Linked DNA regions of Homo sapiens: region 2 is linked to region 1. Evidence: fine-mapped expression QTL. A gene starts in region 1. The other region holds a variant in brackets. All regions are shown on one strand. Distances are between the middles of the regions. Region 1 holds the start of LYPLAL1-DT (LYPLAL1 divergent transcript). Region 2 has its middle 100 kb from the start of LINC01710.

The links. PIP is the estimated chance that this variant, and not a neighbour inherited with it, causes the effect.
Region 2: its variant is fine-mapped to the expression of LYPLAL1-DT in putamen (GTEx, PIP above 0.99).

What each region holds. Positions count from the first base shown.
Region 1 is chr1:219,169,246-219,177,718 of GRCh38, reverse strand. It overlaps LYPLAL1-DT (LYPLAL1 divergent transcript), which reads left to right and starts at 3,931. Exons shown (of 5, transcript NR_038845.1): 1 at 3,931-4,249. It overlaps LYPLAL1 (lysophospholipase like 1), which reads right to left and starts at 3,841. Exons shown (of 5, transcript NM_138794.5): 1 at 3,738-3,841. The coding sequence starts at 3,828. RefSeq lists enhancers at 1-156, 3,551-3,880, 3,961-4,010.
Region 2 is chr1:218,809,586-218,818,058 of GRCh38, reverse strand. No RefSeq gene overlaps it. Among named protein-coding and RNA genes, the nearest start is that of LINC01710, 100 kb to the left of the region's middle. The variant A/G (reference allele first, on the strand shown) is at 4,083.

The DNA.
Region 1 (8,473 bases):
ACAGCGATGATGTAGATAGAAACAGATACTAGAGAAATTTAGGTGGTAAAATTAATAGAGATTGGCAACGGATTTGTTATAAAGGGTCAACAGTAAAAGGTCTCATGGATGACTAACAGGCTTTTGGCCGGAGTAACTGGGTGAACAATACTAGACACCTGCCTAGACAGGAAACATAAGCAACAGGCATACACAGGTTGAGTGTGAGGTGCCTCTTTGTAATGCATACAAGGTCTTATACCATGGGTTGATTGAGCAACTATGGACAGCTAGAGGGGAGGACAAAATCCAGCCTAGGGTCCTTAAGGAGGATAAGCTAAGAATGAGTTTTACATTATTAAAGACTCCTTTCTCAAAAAGAGAGAGAAGGGAAAACTATGGGGAAGAGACCTTACATGGCCCACAAAAGCTAAAATGCTTACCTGACTTTTTGCAGAAAGTTTGCCAACCCCTGCCCTACACTACCTGGATGCCAGTACCCTCTTGGATATCCCTTCCTATTCTTCTCACTCCAGACACACTAGCCTTACTGCTGTTCCTTGAACATGTCAAGGACCCTACCCTGGAGCCTCCGACTTGGCTTTAAAGCCAAGTCTAAGTCTAGCTGTGAAGTTTCATCTTCTGTCATCTTTGCAGTGAGGCATAACCTGACTACTTTATTTAAAATTGTAACACTGTTCCAACTTCTCATCCATGGAAGAATCCCCTTATCCTGCTTTCCTTGTTTCCATAAAACTTACTACCTTCTACTATAGTATTTATTTACTTCATTAGAACATAAGCTCCATGAGAGCAGTGATTTGTTTTTTTCATTGCTGTATGATCAGAGCACAGAACAGTGCCTTACACATGGAGGCTGTGATATATTTCTTGAATGAATGGATTCATGAATGAATGTCTATCAGGCAGTTAGATGAACTTGTCTAGAGCTCAAAAATAGAATCTATGAATCTCCACAGAAATTCAAAGGTTCTATTTTTACCTATACACCAGTGACACAAATGGGTATCTCTAGGAGACTTCTGTGATTAGCCTAGGGAGAAAAATGTAGAGTGAAAAGACCTTGGACCAAATTTAGAGAAACCCCATCATTAATGGCCAGGTAGAGGAGGATGAGTCTGCAAAAGAAACCAGAAGGAGCAAATCAAGACAGAAAAAGAACCAGGAGAGTTTTTTGAGAAGAAAGCTGAATGCAGATGACAGTTCACGTAAGAGGACGACTGAAAATGTCCATTACATTGAGCGACATAGAGCCTGAGCTTACTGGTGACTTTACCAAGAAGCTACTCAGTCAACTTGCTGAGCCTTACCACACAAGAAGAAAGCCATAAACAAGACACATGGTTTGGGCTTTGTGGACCTACTAGCTTAGTGTGGAATACAGACATTACATTACATAATTACAAGTATGATGACTACCACTGAAAGAAGAACCAGTGTCCTATGGGAGCAAATAAGAGTGAATTAATCTGATCTGAGAGACTGAACAAAACTCATTAACCTATCATTTATTTTTATCATCTTAAAAGAAGGTCCGTCTTTAGTACTTTATTAATAGAAAAGGCTCAAATTAAGTTGGCTACATATAATTTACACTCCCATATGTTCTTCTATGGCTGCTATCTCCTAGAAGAAAATCTCAAGCTTTTAAGGTTTTTTATTTGAAAACACAAAATCTGTCTTTAACAACATTTTTTCAGCCTCGAAGAGTAAGAATGCAGCTGCAAAACAACATCTATCCATTCCCAATGTCCACTTTTTAAAAAGCTAGTACTTTATTCCATAGTAAAAGTGTTAAAACTGGTTAACAGTATGGCAAAACTGAGTGTGATAAAACAGAATTGGTTTGCCCATATTCTAGTTAAGCAGAAACCAAACATCTCCTATAACATAACCACATACATTAAAGTTGAATGTAAAATCACTAGCTGCTAAAGACCTACTGGATGATAAAGACCTACTCCCAACGATAAAGATGATAAAGACCTACTCCCAATAAGGTTTTATTTACTTCAGTGGAGATTTAAATATATAGGAATCACATTATACTCGCATACTTGGCAGAATTCTTTGAATAAATTCTTGGTTCAAAGTACAAAGGAAAAAATACATACATACATGACTCTGAATTTTAGAGACATACCCTTACAGGTTATAAAAATGTAATCTGAAATTCAAAAAAAGGATAATTATTTTAAGCAAAGAGGTCCAGGGGAAAAAAGAACATAGTCTAGGAGTTCTTCCTAAAGATAATGAGAATTGATTATGAGAAAGGGTACAGTGTTGGGGAATTTCTGGGTACTTATAAATGAACACTCTTGGAGCCCTAAATAGTACTACCAGTCTCCTAGTTATTAAGTACCGCTGTCATCTTACACACGTCACCTTCTAAATATATGCCGTCTTTCCCTTTAAACACTATTGGACCTCTTCTTCCCTATCTCCAAAACAATATATCCTAGTTCAAACTTTTTCACCTTACCCCACCAAAGCCCTGAGTTTGAGGTCGGAGAGCTTTGGGTTCTAATCCCAAATCCGCCACTACTCACAGTAACAGCTAAGAGACCTTGGCCAAGCTGCTGAACCTGTCTGGCCTCATTTTCAAAATAAAGAGAATACCTCCCACAATTGCCCTTTTCCAGGTCTCTGCCCAGTACCTTTCCAATTCCCTTCCAATCACCGTCCCATTTAAGCCTACCCGTCTCGGCTCAAAGACCACTTTCTTCGAAAAGTCTGACAAGCTTTTCATCTTCCAAATGCCTTAATAATGCCTAACCACATTTTTTTCTCTTACAATTCACTTGGCAGGAAACCATGCACCGTCTTGTGATCTTCCATGCACTGCTGACTCAAACTAATTGGATTGTTTTTGTTTTTAACTTTAGGTAGGCCCCCTGAGGACACCGGCTGCATCTCATTTCTTTAAAAAACATTTCCTGAGAGCTTACCCTGGGCCAAGCACTGGGGGTGCAAAGGTTGACACAAGGGCCCTTACTCTCATAATCCAGTGGGAAGTTCACAATCCAGTGGGGAAGACAGACAAAAGTGATTACAGATGAGTGTTAAGTAACGATACAGCATTAAGCACACGTTACTAAGGGCAGGTAGTGGAAGATGCCTGTCCCTGGGGGTCCTGCCCCTGTAGTCTATCTTGGAAGTTTAATGACACAGGCGGGAAAGGGAAAGGAAGGAAAGAGAAGCAGCAAAAAGGAAAGTGAGAGAAAGCACTCCAGCCATGGCACAGTGGCTTACAGAAAAGAGATAATCTGTAAACAGTATCTAAGTTAACTGTGAATCTCAATTGTCTACATTAGTATGGGAGCCTGGAAAAAGCAATGGGCAATTACGACTGAAAAATCACTAGTAGCTGATAATGAAAAACACTAAATAATTTCCCTCTAGCAGAAGACTTACCTTACTAACTTGCTCTGTTTAAACTTGGGGCGAGGAATGGGGAGGTGTGTTGTGGGGATGGAGGGCTGGCTGAGCGGCGGGACACAAGGCCCCAAAGCGAGGGTGGTGGACCAGTGACCGCCCGATAGAAAGAGGAAGACTAACGGGGGAGGCTGGGGGCAGGTGGCGCTGCCCGTGCATCTACAGCCGGGGCTGGCGACGGGGGAGCCACCCACTGGGCCCTATTTGGGCCCGGCGACACCTCCACTTGGGCAATACTGGGGTAACCGAGGGGAGGATGTTTCCCGAGCTGTAGAAAACCAGGACGTAAAATTGAAATCCACCTGAGCCATGCAGGAAGATCAGAGAGGCGCTATGCCTCCCTGCCGGCGACACGATACAGCGCTGCAGAACCGACCCCGACGCAGCCGCCATCGCTGATGCCACTGCCAGTCATGCGGTTCCGCCCCTGCGTTGCCGCGCGGGGCCGCGCACGCAAATACGCAGGCACGCGCGGGAGCACGCCCGGGAGCGCGCATGCGCAGCGCTGCTGGCCCGCTCTCTGAGGAGCTTTCAATACTTTGGGGTCAAGTTTGAGGCAGTTGTAACTGTACTGAGTTTAGTTTTGCTAATAATGGTATTCTACGTGTGTCAGCCTCGTGTGGACTTCTGTAATGACTAATGGATATGTTTATATCCTGAGCATTTGCTGTAGGAATTTTAAATGCAATCCCAAAACTCAAGATTACCTTATTTGGAGAAATATTCGTGTTACTATGTTTAAAATTTAATAGAACCATATTTTACCTTTCACTTTGGGACTCGCACAGGATGTTTGCAGCTCTTGATATACAGGGTAAGCGAAGCATATAATAATAAGTTCTCTTCGTGTCTCTTATTTTTAATAAATAGTTTACAAAGCAAATCTAATTTAATGAGATTCTGCTTTATATACCCATTAGAATGGCTCTTATCAAAAAAACAGAAAATAAGTATTAGTAAAGATGTGTAGAAATTAGAAACCTTGTGCATAGCTGATCAGAATGTAAAATGATGTTGCGGCAATAGAAATAATTTGGTGGCTCCTCAACAAGTTAAACATTGACTTAGCATAGGTACTAGCAGTTCCACTTCTAGGTATATACCCAAAAGAGATGAAAGCAGGGACTCAAACAAATACTTGTACTTCAGTGTTCTGTAGCAGCATTATTCACAAGTACCAAAAAGTGGAAACAACTCAAATGTTCATCTACAGATGGAGAGATAAACCAAATGTGCTATGTACATATTGGAATGGAATATTATTCAGCCTGTAAAAAGAATGTGATTCGGATACATGCTACAACATGGATGAACCTTGAAAACATTATGCCGAGTGAAGCCAGACACAAAAGGACAAATAATTGTATGATTCCACTTACATGAGATATCTAGAATTGGCAAATGCATAGGGACAGAAAGTGAAATTAGAGGTTACCAGGGACTAAGGGAAGAGGGAGTTGGGAGGTTGTTGTTTAATGAGTACAAGAGTTTCTGCTTAGATAGTGAAACATTTTTAAAAATGGACAGTGATGATGGTTGTACAACAGTGTTAATAACTGCCAGTGAACTATACACCTAGTAAATTTTATGTGTATTTTACCATAATTTTAAAAATACTAAGAAATGGAATTATTTCCTGTATAAAGTCCAAAACATAGGTATCTTTTAATACTGAAGGCAGTGGCCCCAGCAGGTTGCTCTTGCCTCATGTAAAATTCAACAAAATAACCCAGTAAAAGCTTAAGTACCATTAAACACTGGCCTTCCATTCATTGTAGTCTGCATTACATTTTAGCAATTACAACTTACCTTTTATTTGTTCCAGGTAATCACCCTACTTACAGGTAAGTAAACTGTTTACTATCAACATTAGTTGCCAAAATCAGCTCTAAGCTATCATGGTGTTATATTAATAACAATACCATCAACAAGAATGGTCCTACATGCCATTAGTTAACCAAATCAAAAAGAAATTCTGAGTCATTTCTCCAAAGCCCATAGATCTGCAGCAGAGAGTTGTATAAGTGAAGTCCCTGAGGAGGACAAACTAGGGTAGGCTGAGCTCTGATAGCCAATTCTTAAAAGAAAAACCTCTGTCTTTTGACCTGCCTTCCCCGTATGAGTTCTAGATAACCTTCCCTAGCCAGGTGAGAAGAGGGCAGTGCTACTAGGAAAGACCACTTGGAGATATACAGGGAAGGCTTTAAGTTCTACTCTTAGAACTCCATTTACTACCTGAAAATCTTACTGTACACCACCCCACGCTTTTGAGACAGCAAAAAATCAGAATATAATTATTTAAGAGTAATGATTATTAATAATAATAAGCAACTAATATTCATGGGATTCAGTAGGTGCCAAAAACTGTCATAAATTAATTCCAATAAAACTCAGTACTATTACTATCTGCTTTTGTCAATGAGGCTCAAAGAGGTAAGGAACCTGGCTCAAAGTCATAGTGCCAGTCAATTGTAGAACCTGGATTCACATGCTGGGCTTGACTCCAGAGCATAGGTTCTTAACTATTACCCACATTTACACATGAGTGCACAGAAATGAAGCAAGGGCATGTCGCAACTCTTATTTCAAAAACAAAAGTCTGGAATTTGTATTGTGGCCCTTTAGAGTCTCTATTTATTAGGTGTTCCTGTGCTTCTTTAGTTTTTCCCAAGTCTACTGCTATTAGTTCCTGATTTGTTCTTCCAACTATTCTACCAGTTTAAACAGGTAGATAAGCAGGTGGTAAATACCAGAAGCAACCTTCTGTATTCTGAATTTCACTGAGAACTCCAGCCTTCCCAGATTCATTATTAGAATGAGCCAGATTCTTCCACACTTAACCAAAGTGCTATTTTATTTCCAGTGATTTAAATGCTTAGCTATTGTTGCTATTCCTTTCATCTGTATTTGTTTATAGGACAAGCAAAGGTTTTAGATTACCTATATTTAGAGATCCCATCTGGTAGGCAAACTGTTGAACAAAAATGTTTTGTTCCTTTCATGTTACTGTACTACTTTGAAATGTAATTAAGTTTCAAGATGACTATTTGCTTTTGTGGTGGATCTTTTGCCCTATTGAAGGTGGGGGAATATTATCACTGGAAGATTCCTATTCATACATTCTTTTACTCTTTATATAGCTCCTAATTATTTTTTGTTGCTACTCATTTGCTTTCTGCCAATCTATATGCACCTCCTTTTGGTAACTTCAGTTCTAAACTTAAAAAAGCAAGTAAACAAAATAAAAGAAAAAGAAAAAGTTCTCCTGTTTTGCAGGGTTTCAATATCAATTAGGATCTAACGATATAAATGGCAAAGTCGGAGTTTAGTTTACTGTTCTTCAGTGTGTTGAGAAATGCTTTAGGCCACACTTAGTTTTCAAAACAGAAAAGCAATTGAAAGTTCAGCCATTAAGATTAGTATATTTTGCCTGGGTGCAGTGGCTTACTGTAATCCCAGCACTTTGGGAGGCCAAGGCAGGCGGTTCACTTCAGGCCAGGAGTTTAAGACCAGCCTGGCCAACATGGCGAAACCCCATCTGTACTAAAAATACAAAAAAACTTAGCCGAGCATCATGGCGCATGCCTGTAATCCCAGCTACTCCGGTGGCTGAGACACAATAATTGATTGAACCCCGAGGCAGAGGTTGCAGTGAGCCAAGATCTCACCACTGAACTCCAGCCTGGGTGACAGAGCAAGACTCTGTCTCAAAAAAGAAACAAAAACAATGAACAAGATTAGTATACTTGGTATTTTCAAATGATAACAGTTAAATGAAGTTGCATTTGTCACGCAGACAGTACACAGTTTCCCGTTTGTTGTTTGGCTCATTCTTAAGCATCAAACCATATCCTCTCTATTGGTTAGTTTTCATCTGTTGCATCATTCAGAGAGAGAGAAACACACACACACACACACACACACACACACACACACATATATATATAAACAATATATACACATTGCACAAAATGCTTCAGCTTCAGCTTTAGGTAATTTAACATTTTGTCATAGATAAATAAAATGATTTCTTTTATGCATTCCCCCTGTCCATTCATGAAAGAAAAACTAGAAACAAACTTAAAGGTCCTGAATTCTTACAAAACAGCAAAACTATACTTTTTATAAATGAGATTATAAACTTTAACATAATCATTGCCTCAGTTCTGGGGACCTTAATCTTTTTCAGTCCAGTCTTTCCAGATACAGATATGGGTCATTCCTCTACTTTACCTTACTACTAGATGTGCATGGTCTCATTCTCTTTTTAGAGCAGATGGGTCACGTGGGGCATTGTGAGATGGACTGAGATGGCATTGGCAGTAGGGGTAGGGGAATACATGAGCTCCTCAAACACAGACCAAACGCAGCCTTGGAGAATGGATAGTGATTACTCTGCTGGATTATTAACAGTCAACATGATACACACCAAAGCAGTATGTAGGCCCTAGAGGAGGACAGTGAACTTTCCTCCCTTGGGTGCAGGCTACAGGGTCAGTGTTTATGCTTGGACACCAGAACAATGTTCTTTGCATTGCCATTTGTCTCCTCTTTTCTGGGAAATGGGTCTTCTTCCATTTGGACACCTCTTATGGCCAGTTCTCAAATTCCTAAGTTACCCTCTGGAAACACTTCTTATTCAACTTCCACTCAGTGCTTATATGAGTCTGAGGAATCCCTCCTGCAATCTTCATATTTGTCTCTGTACTCTAGAACCTATTACTTTTTTCTTCTATAACAAATTTTCAGGCTTTTGAAATCCAGGGCAAGAATCAACAGCAACCCCTAATCAGGTTTTGGGCCCTTGAGGGCAGGGAAGTTCAAATCCTACCATGAGATGAGGGGAAGTCATTGCATTGCATACGTCTATTACAAAGAAAAGAAATAAAAGCCAAAAGAGTAATTTCCTTATGAATGCAGTCAGAATATCTACTGTATTTTGCTACATTCATTTAAGAGAAGATTAGATAGGTAGATATAAAAAATGTTGAAGTAATGAAATGATAGGAGTTCCTGTTCCAGCCTCGGGGATGACAAG
Region 2 (8,473 bases), 360 kb after region 1:
TTTTAGTATCTTAGGTTCCAAACGCACAGATGTCCAGTCTGGCTCTGTAAGGGGAGGGGGGCGGGTGTGTGTCTGTGTGTGCAATAGTGAGAGTTGGTGTTTATGTGATAGGGCACGAGTAGAGGAGGGGTGGGGTCAATAGCACACCCACAGTACGCACCGCCCTGCAGCAGGCTGTCCTGTGCCATACTGTACCATGCACATCACACTGCCCTTTAAGCAGTTTTTCTTGTGCTACAAAACAGTAGAAGACTGTTTCCAGGTTTCTGCCTGCTTAGGCCAGTAATTCCAATCCCAAGCTTAGCCACAGTCTGACTTGAAGGGGAGAGTTCTAGAGAAGGATAAAAGAAGAATTTTCTCAGCAAGTTTGTTTCGTGTGCCCTCCCAAGTTCAAAGAGAAAATTCTGTCTCATTAAAATGACTTCTGGCTTTGCTTGGGGGAATTTCAGGCTTCAACAGTTAACTTTTCTGGAGTTATAACTTTTATGCATTTCTCTTTTTATTGGGTAGATGTTATGATTGGTTTTATAAGCAAAATAAACAGCTTAGGAACAAATGAAAGACTTTTTATTTCTCTTTTAACCGTAAATTCAAGAGCTTGAAATGAATCTGGCAAATAACTCATAATGCTGAGGAGAGCTGTGGCCGAAAGGCAAGATTTCCAAAAATTCTTGAAAATCCAAGTAATACCGGGAATAAATCCCAATTTCAACTTGTTGAGCCCTGTGTCTGTCTTAGAACATTTTTTTTTTCTACCTTAAAAAAATTGGAGAAATCAATCACAGAACTCCTGTTGTGCTGTCTCTTTTCCACAGAGTGCAGAGCTGTGCTCGAGGTCTAGCTGTTCTTAACAGAGCCACAGGGAGCAGGACAAGCACGTGCTTCCTAGTGAGTTGAGGAAGTAACTCCTCCATGTAGGAGTTAAGGCCTCCTAAAGTGCACTTCAAATAAAAATTTAAATTTTAAATTTTAAATTTTAAAAAAAATTAAATTTTTTCCTTATACATCTCATATTTATTTGATTATTTTTCTTTTATTTTTTCTTAAGATCAACCCTGAATTTTTGACCTGACTGATGAACTTACTTTTGATCTTTTAAGCAATTGCACATTATGCAAAATCAATCACTGAAAAAAAACACACATTAATATATACTAGACAAATGATATTAAAATGGTCTTTCATTAAAGGCCCAATTTAAGTTTCATTTTTCTGTATATAAATCCTTCTTTAATCCCTCCCCATCAAAATTATCTACTGTGTCCTTTAGCTAATTGTTGTCATTGTCCATTGAACAACTTTGTGTACCAGGCATTGTAACAGTGCCTGCCTTTTACATACTTGATTTTTAATTATCCAAAGATAGGTTCATGTTACCTGAGGATAAAGAAATGGAGGCCTGGGGGTTAATCAGCTTCTGCAGAGGTCAATAGTGGAGCAGACTTTTGAACCCAGATTGGTCAACTACTATAATTTGCATTTTTTGTAACCTCGTTCACTTCTGTGACTCTACAACACTGCTGTCTACAGGGTATTGCCACTGATTCATCAGCTCCTTCAAAATAAGAAAGAGGTTTTATTAATTTCTATGCAGTCTTTATCAAAAGTTCCTGGCAATTCTTTCAGTAAATTTGTTAAAATAAAGTTATAACCTCAGTTTTATAAACCAGTTGAACAATTCATCTTTAGCTAATCATGATATACATAGTAAAGTTTAGGGAATGTATCTAACAGAAAGCATGTGGTGTGATAGCTGACATATCAAAATCCATGAAACAATCAGCCATTCTTCTAGTAGTAGTAGTAGTAGCAGCAGTAGTTGTAGTAGTGATTACCACCACCACGTTTTATTGAGTAAGTTTTAGTTGTGAATCTTTTCACTTCACATTCATTTTTACAAATTAACCTCAGGGTAATCATAGGAAGTTATAAGAGAACTGTTAATCTCCATATTGCAGTTGAGGAAAGTAAGACTCAGAAAAATTAAATAACTTGTCTAAAATCACAGAGCCTAAAAAATTCTAGCCATGTTCTTACCATTCACATTGTAGGACATAATTGAGTCCCTCTCTATCTGGTGCATTTGATTACCCCACTAAAATATGGCACCAGCAAGATTACAGCCAAGGCGGCAAGATTTGGAGTCAGTGAAGAGAGGCCTTCAATGCAAGAGAATGCTAAGTAAATACTTAGTGAATGATGGAGCCAGTGCAGCTTCTTCAGTAATGGCATCAGTTTTCATCCAAGTCCCTGGTTAACAGCCCATGCTGAACACTGATTCCTATACCCAAGGAATAAGCATAGGGAGTTCACATATTGTTTGCTTTCAATACCTAGGAATACTCTTAAAAATCAACCCTTTGGAGTAAAAAAAAAAAAATAAATCAATACCAACTATTGTTTGAGAAAACATATATTCTGTTAATTATTGGACTTATTGATTTACTCTCCTAAGGCTTTGCCTTTGTGTATTTTTAACAATCTACAGTCATACTACCAGATGTTTTATAAAATATAACCAAAAAAGACAATGCCATACCATTCACCTATGAGGGCAACACAGTCTACTCTAGTATAATAAATGTTTCTGACACATAAATTAATGATAGCCTATTGGGAAGTAAAGGTATGATGTCAGGATACTATAGAAGTCTTGCTGTTCATACACAATTTCCCCTCACATGTTACAACTTTATGCCAAGTAGTCACAGCAACAGAATGCAAAGTATACCAAGCCAGCTGAATATGGTAACGCATGAAGGAACATGGCATGGTCCCCCATGCCCAGTCACCCCATGTTCCTTCTACTGGCTCAGTTTGGCAGTACGTTTTGTGCTTTCTGAGTAGTTCTCCCTGTTTTTTGTTCATTGACCCTTGTCTCTATAACTCAGCATCCTTCTGCCCTGTAATGCCTTCCTTTGTATTGCTTTCAGCAAGCTGTCTTTTACTTTATTTCTAAAGTATTGTCTGATATTTCCCATGGTATTTATTTAGTATAAATTCAAAATACTTTTAAGCTTTGCTTATATTGTATCAGTATTATTATTGCTTTTGCTAATAATCTGTTTACAAACGTGCACAGGTTTTAACTGCCCCACCCCTACTTTCTCACAAAGGGAACAATTTCAAAAATAAGAAGTTTTTTTTGGGCTTCAGGTAGCACATTAGGGAGAAACATCTGCATGGTTCAACAACATCTCCCATCTGGGTCACAGCAGAAGAAGCATGAAGAATGTGAAATGAAAGTCTTGTGCAACTTAGTAGTACTTGTGCACTTTACATACAAGAGAAACACATAAGCATTTGCTGTGGACACCTTTCTCACGGACTCATAAACAAGCATATACAGGTTACTTAGCCACCTGCACCTGTTTGCTTATGTGAAAATTAGAGCTAATAACTCTAACTTCACAAATGGGTAATTAGGACTATATGGAATAACACAAGTTATGCATCTATCACAATATCTAGCACACCAGAGGTACTTATTAAGGATTAATTCCTTTTCTTTTTTTCAATAATCTGTTCATGCATAAGCAGAGAAAATAAGTAGGGCTTTTGGAAATAGGACTGGGACTATCATCTTTTTAACATTCAATGACAGAAAGACAGAACCCTCACAGTGTGACACAACAGAAAAACTAAATTTTTTTTAAAGACACTAAAATTTTAAAAGTACAAAAATCCAGGACCATCAAAGCATGACAGTCAACTTTCTGCTGACATCATGATAGTATAATATTATTGCAATGGCTCTGAATGCAGAAGGCATTCAATTATGTTCAAAATGTTTTATTTCTGAAAGTAGGGAAATATGCAATCTACTTTAATAAGATTTTTAAGAAAATAGTTTTTATTTTTAAACACCTTACTCTTCAGGTTGTATACATATATATAGTGTGTGTATATGTGCATGTGTGTATGTATATAATTTGCATTAATTTATGGGGTAGAAGTGTAATTTTGTTACATGTATAGGTGGCATAGTGGTAAAGTCAGGGCTGTTAGAATATCCATCACTCAAATAACACACATCACATCTAGATTATATTTTGAAGAGTTTATAAAATTCTTCATGTCTC[A/G]TGATCTTCTCTCTTTCAAAATTGATGATATAAATCAGAATTTCAGAAAAAAATATTAAGCAATGACTTCAGAGTTAAAATAAATCATGTAGAATAGACAGTTAAGTAGCAATTATTCCTGGCTTCCTTGTTTAAAATGATGCAGGGAAAAGAATATACATTCAAATGACAGCAAGAATGACTTTGATTAGGTAGATTAAAAAAACATACAGAACTTTTGAATTCCCAGTTTCTTAGAACAAACTGTGAAGATAGTAAGCAGTGTTTCCTTTTTGAAAGGAAATAATTAAGGATAGAAATTATTCTATTTACAGACCATTAATTTGAATATTTATGTTTCTCCCTACATTAGTTTCTACTGTTGATAACCCAAAGATTGCCCATTTTTATTTCAAAATAAGAAATAAATCAGGACCACTTTGTGTGTCAACCAAGAATTACACACCCACTCCCTCAATGGCAGCAAGGTTATACACAGTAGTGACTAAGAGCTTGGATGTAAGTAAGCCTTAACAGACATGTCAGATTCAAGCTTTGCTGCTTACTGGCCCCTTGAACTCAGGCTGGGTACTTAAAACTTTTCTCTGACTCATGTTTTTTCTCTTCGGCAAAATTGGATTAATGTTACCTCTCTTCTGGAGTTGTTTTAAGGCTTACATTGGATGTATGCAATTGACAAAATGCCTGGCACAAAGTGATTGTTACATACACACATATATGTACAGTATATATTAACCTTTACACTCTTTATGAAGGGCTTATAATGAATGACTATTATGCTTTGTTTCTTTCTTTTTTTAATTATGTAGTTACATAAAATCACTAAGGGAAAAAGAACAAAGATAACTAAAACATAGTCTCACTGTACAGTATAATTTGTGTGTGAACACTAATAATGATGAATTGCACTTTGTACATCACATGTTTTAAAATAGGCAATTATAGATCATAAAAATTAATTTTGATACTTATCATCTTGCTGTAAAATGCATTTGATATTAAATTTTAAGTAAGATTGTGAATAAGAACACCTTAAAAGTCATACTGAAAAAAATCAATTTCTCTAAATGTTTAGAAAAAATAAGGTTAAATAGAAATATTTTTCACTAAAAACTATATTCTGATTTATATTTCTAATTTTTTATGATATTCTAATTTTATCACATTTTCTTGGAATTGCTTTATAGTAGGAATTGTGCTTCATGCCATATGCATGAGACTTCATTTAGTGTATTTTGATATCGACTTTTGACATTTCAGCCAGCCTATTCAAATTAAAAAATTCCTTTTAAATTTCTTGTTTCCGTCCATATTACTAGATGATTCCTAGGACACCGTCATACCTTTTAGCTCTAATCTTGGCTTTTAACGTGATTCTCAAACGCAACTTGGCCTTCCTTTTTTGGTATCTTGCAAAACACAATACTTGTTTAATGGTTAACTTAATATCTACAAATGGAAAAAGCGCTCTTGGCTCTTTAAAGATTTTAGTACTTTTGGTAAAAGGATCTCATGAACTAAGTTCTTGCTGTCTCTTGCAGCACAATTTGAAGTTTTCCTAAATAAGAAATCTAATGAGTATTATCTGAAGTTATAGTTATGCAATTTCTACTGCCATCATTACAAAGGAATACCTCCTATAATTAAAAGGCATGCAGTCATTCTTGGACTAAATGGAAGAAGAAATTAAATCGTCCCTTAGTGGAGGTATAATAGAGCTTGCTTGGTTGCTCTGGGGGAGAGAAGAATGTTTTGACTGTGTGTGGGGAGGAAAGAGGAAAGACTCAGTAAATAATTTGTTTTTCATCACTCCTGTTAATGCCAGCTCTGAATCTCAAATAATAAGTCAATTGCAATTTCATAAAGATACATCAAATGACATTTTATCCTTTTGTAGATCTAGATAAATGGTCTTAAGGATGAGGAATGGCTGACTTTAGCAAACAGATTAAAAATAGAACATTACCCAAACACTGAGTAACTCAAATTTAAAAAGCACAAAGACATTCACATGCAAAACCAAAGAGTTTTTTTGCTATTGAGAAGAAAGGTTGTGACCTGGCTTCTAGTCTGTCTCCATTCTTGACCTCCTTTATTTTAGTTCAAAGAGATTAAATACATTTTCTTGGGCCAGTCGTGGATGAGAACATCATGGATACTTTGGCTTGAAGAGAGAGAAGGAAGAGATGGGGAAAAGGGACTATGACCTAATGGGTCTTTTCCATCCCTGTAGCCTGGGTTTCTGCCATTCCTTCCCACACAACCCAAACTCCAGCCACATTGGCTCCCTTGCCATTCCCAAAACACACTAAACATTTAACTGAGTATGCCTTTGCACATACTGTTCTCTCTGCCTTTACTACCACCACCCCCACTTCTGTTTTGCAAACTCCTACTCATCTGTCAGCAGATTTCATCCACTCTGTAAAACCTAACCCAATTCACAAGCAAAGCTAATCAGTCTTTCATGCAGCTTTCATGCCACTTTGTTTATTCCTCCTCTTACTCCATTTAACTGAAATGTGTCTTTTTAAACATCTCTTTCTTCTACACTCAGCTATGGACTTCTGAAGGAAAGGGACTGAGCCTCTCTTATCTTTTTTGCCCAGTCCCTTATAGGTAGCTAGGAAACCATAAAGGCTTATACATTCATACTGCAAGTAGGTAGGTAGATGGTGATACAGATAAAGGCACAGAGGCAGAGATGAAGATACATACAGAGAAAGATAGAGACAGTGACAGAGAGCCAGAGATGGTGCTTCAAGTACCTAAGGGAAAAAGCTCAGAAGCAGGATGGCACAAGACCTTTGGCATGTTTTCGACTCTAAGATTTAATTGGCATAGTGGGGAAAAAGGAGTGGTAATTAAATTTGCATTAGACTGCATGAACACGGTATGCATGTGACAAGGGTTGGGGGAGGGAATAGCATGTTCCCAAGTACATGTGGTTAATTTATCTGAATTAAATTTGGTTGTCTTTAAAACTGAGTTCTGAGTCCTGAGTAGAAAATGTAGAGAGTATGATTGAACAAAGTGTAATCAAAAATGTCTTAGAAAAAAAATCTGTTTTTAAATGAAGTGGCAGAGCCCTTTGTTATCTTAAGCTGGATGAAAATAGAACCTTCATTGCAATCATGTCAAATATACATTCCAGGAAGAGGATGGGCTTCATAAACAACTGAGAAATAAAGGAAAGTAACATAACACTCCCTCTGTCTTTCCACATAAATCCACCTACTATAGATACCAACAAATGAAGAAATGAAAATCTGGGAGTCCTTCTCATAGGCAGGTCAAACACATGATGTAAAAGAAGATCAAACTTATTAAGTACCTATTATGGTTGAGAATGCCTTTAAGAATGAAAAATTAAGACATATTCAACACTCAACACCAACGCACCAAAGAACATAACCCAGATGAGGTAATCTGCAAGACTGGAGTAAAAATGAGCTAATGCTGTTTAGGGGATTGTATGCAAAATATGGCAAGACATCAATAACAACTGAAAGGAGGAGGAGGAAAAAAGCTGCTCAGCTGCTAGCAATAAAGAAGACGCAAATCTGCAAATTGCATTAACTGTTTCAGTAACTTGTAGGGCAGTGCAGTTAATCCTTGAGGCTAGTGCCGTCTTCATCTAGTCAGCAGGAGTACTAGCTAGACAAACTGTACATCTGTGTTTCTGGGCTGTATTTGTTGAGGCTTCCTCTTCCTTACTTTCTTTCCTTGGGGGGGTCTGTGCATGGAGAAAGGAGAGTGAGGGATGGAAGACTGTCTTATCCTCTTCTAATTCTCCCTACCACTGGCTTACAAATGCTATCTCCATCATGCCATCATGATGAAGAGGCATATATAATGTTATTCAGGCTGGCAGTTGAACTGACAATACATTTTATATATTACCCAAATGTTGAAGAAGAAAATTTGCAATAACCCAGTATTCATTTGTAAAAGCATTAAGTTGGCTTCATTAGTTACAAAATTGAATTTGTGAGCTGTTAAATGTCAGATGTGACCCTTGGGCCTTTTTGAGGTGAGGTGATGTGGTGAAGGGCAGGCTTCAGGTCTTGTTTTATACAAGAATTTTAATTGTTCTGGCTAGGAAGTTGAAGTGACTCATTGAGTTGAAGTGGTCTCTATCTCCTGACACAGATTACAAATGGGGGAGGATAGTGTAGCAATAATATCTTTAAAAGAATTGAACTAGCTCACTTTGCTGTTTTAACTACTTCCATCCAGATTCATTTGTTTTGGACATAAAAGTTGAAAGCAGGCCAATGACAGCAAAAGCAGTGTCTTTGTCACTCCTTTTGAACCCATACAAACCTTTTCGCTGTGCTTAAATCAGGCTTTTTTTTTTCTGCCAAAGAAAATTGCATGCTATTTGGCCT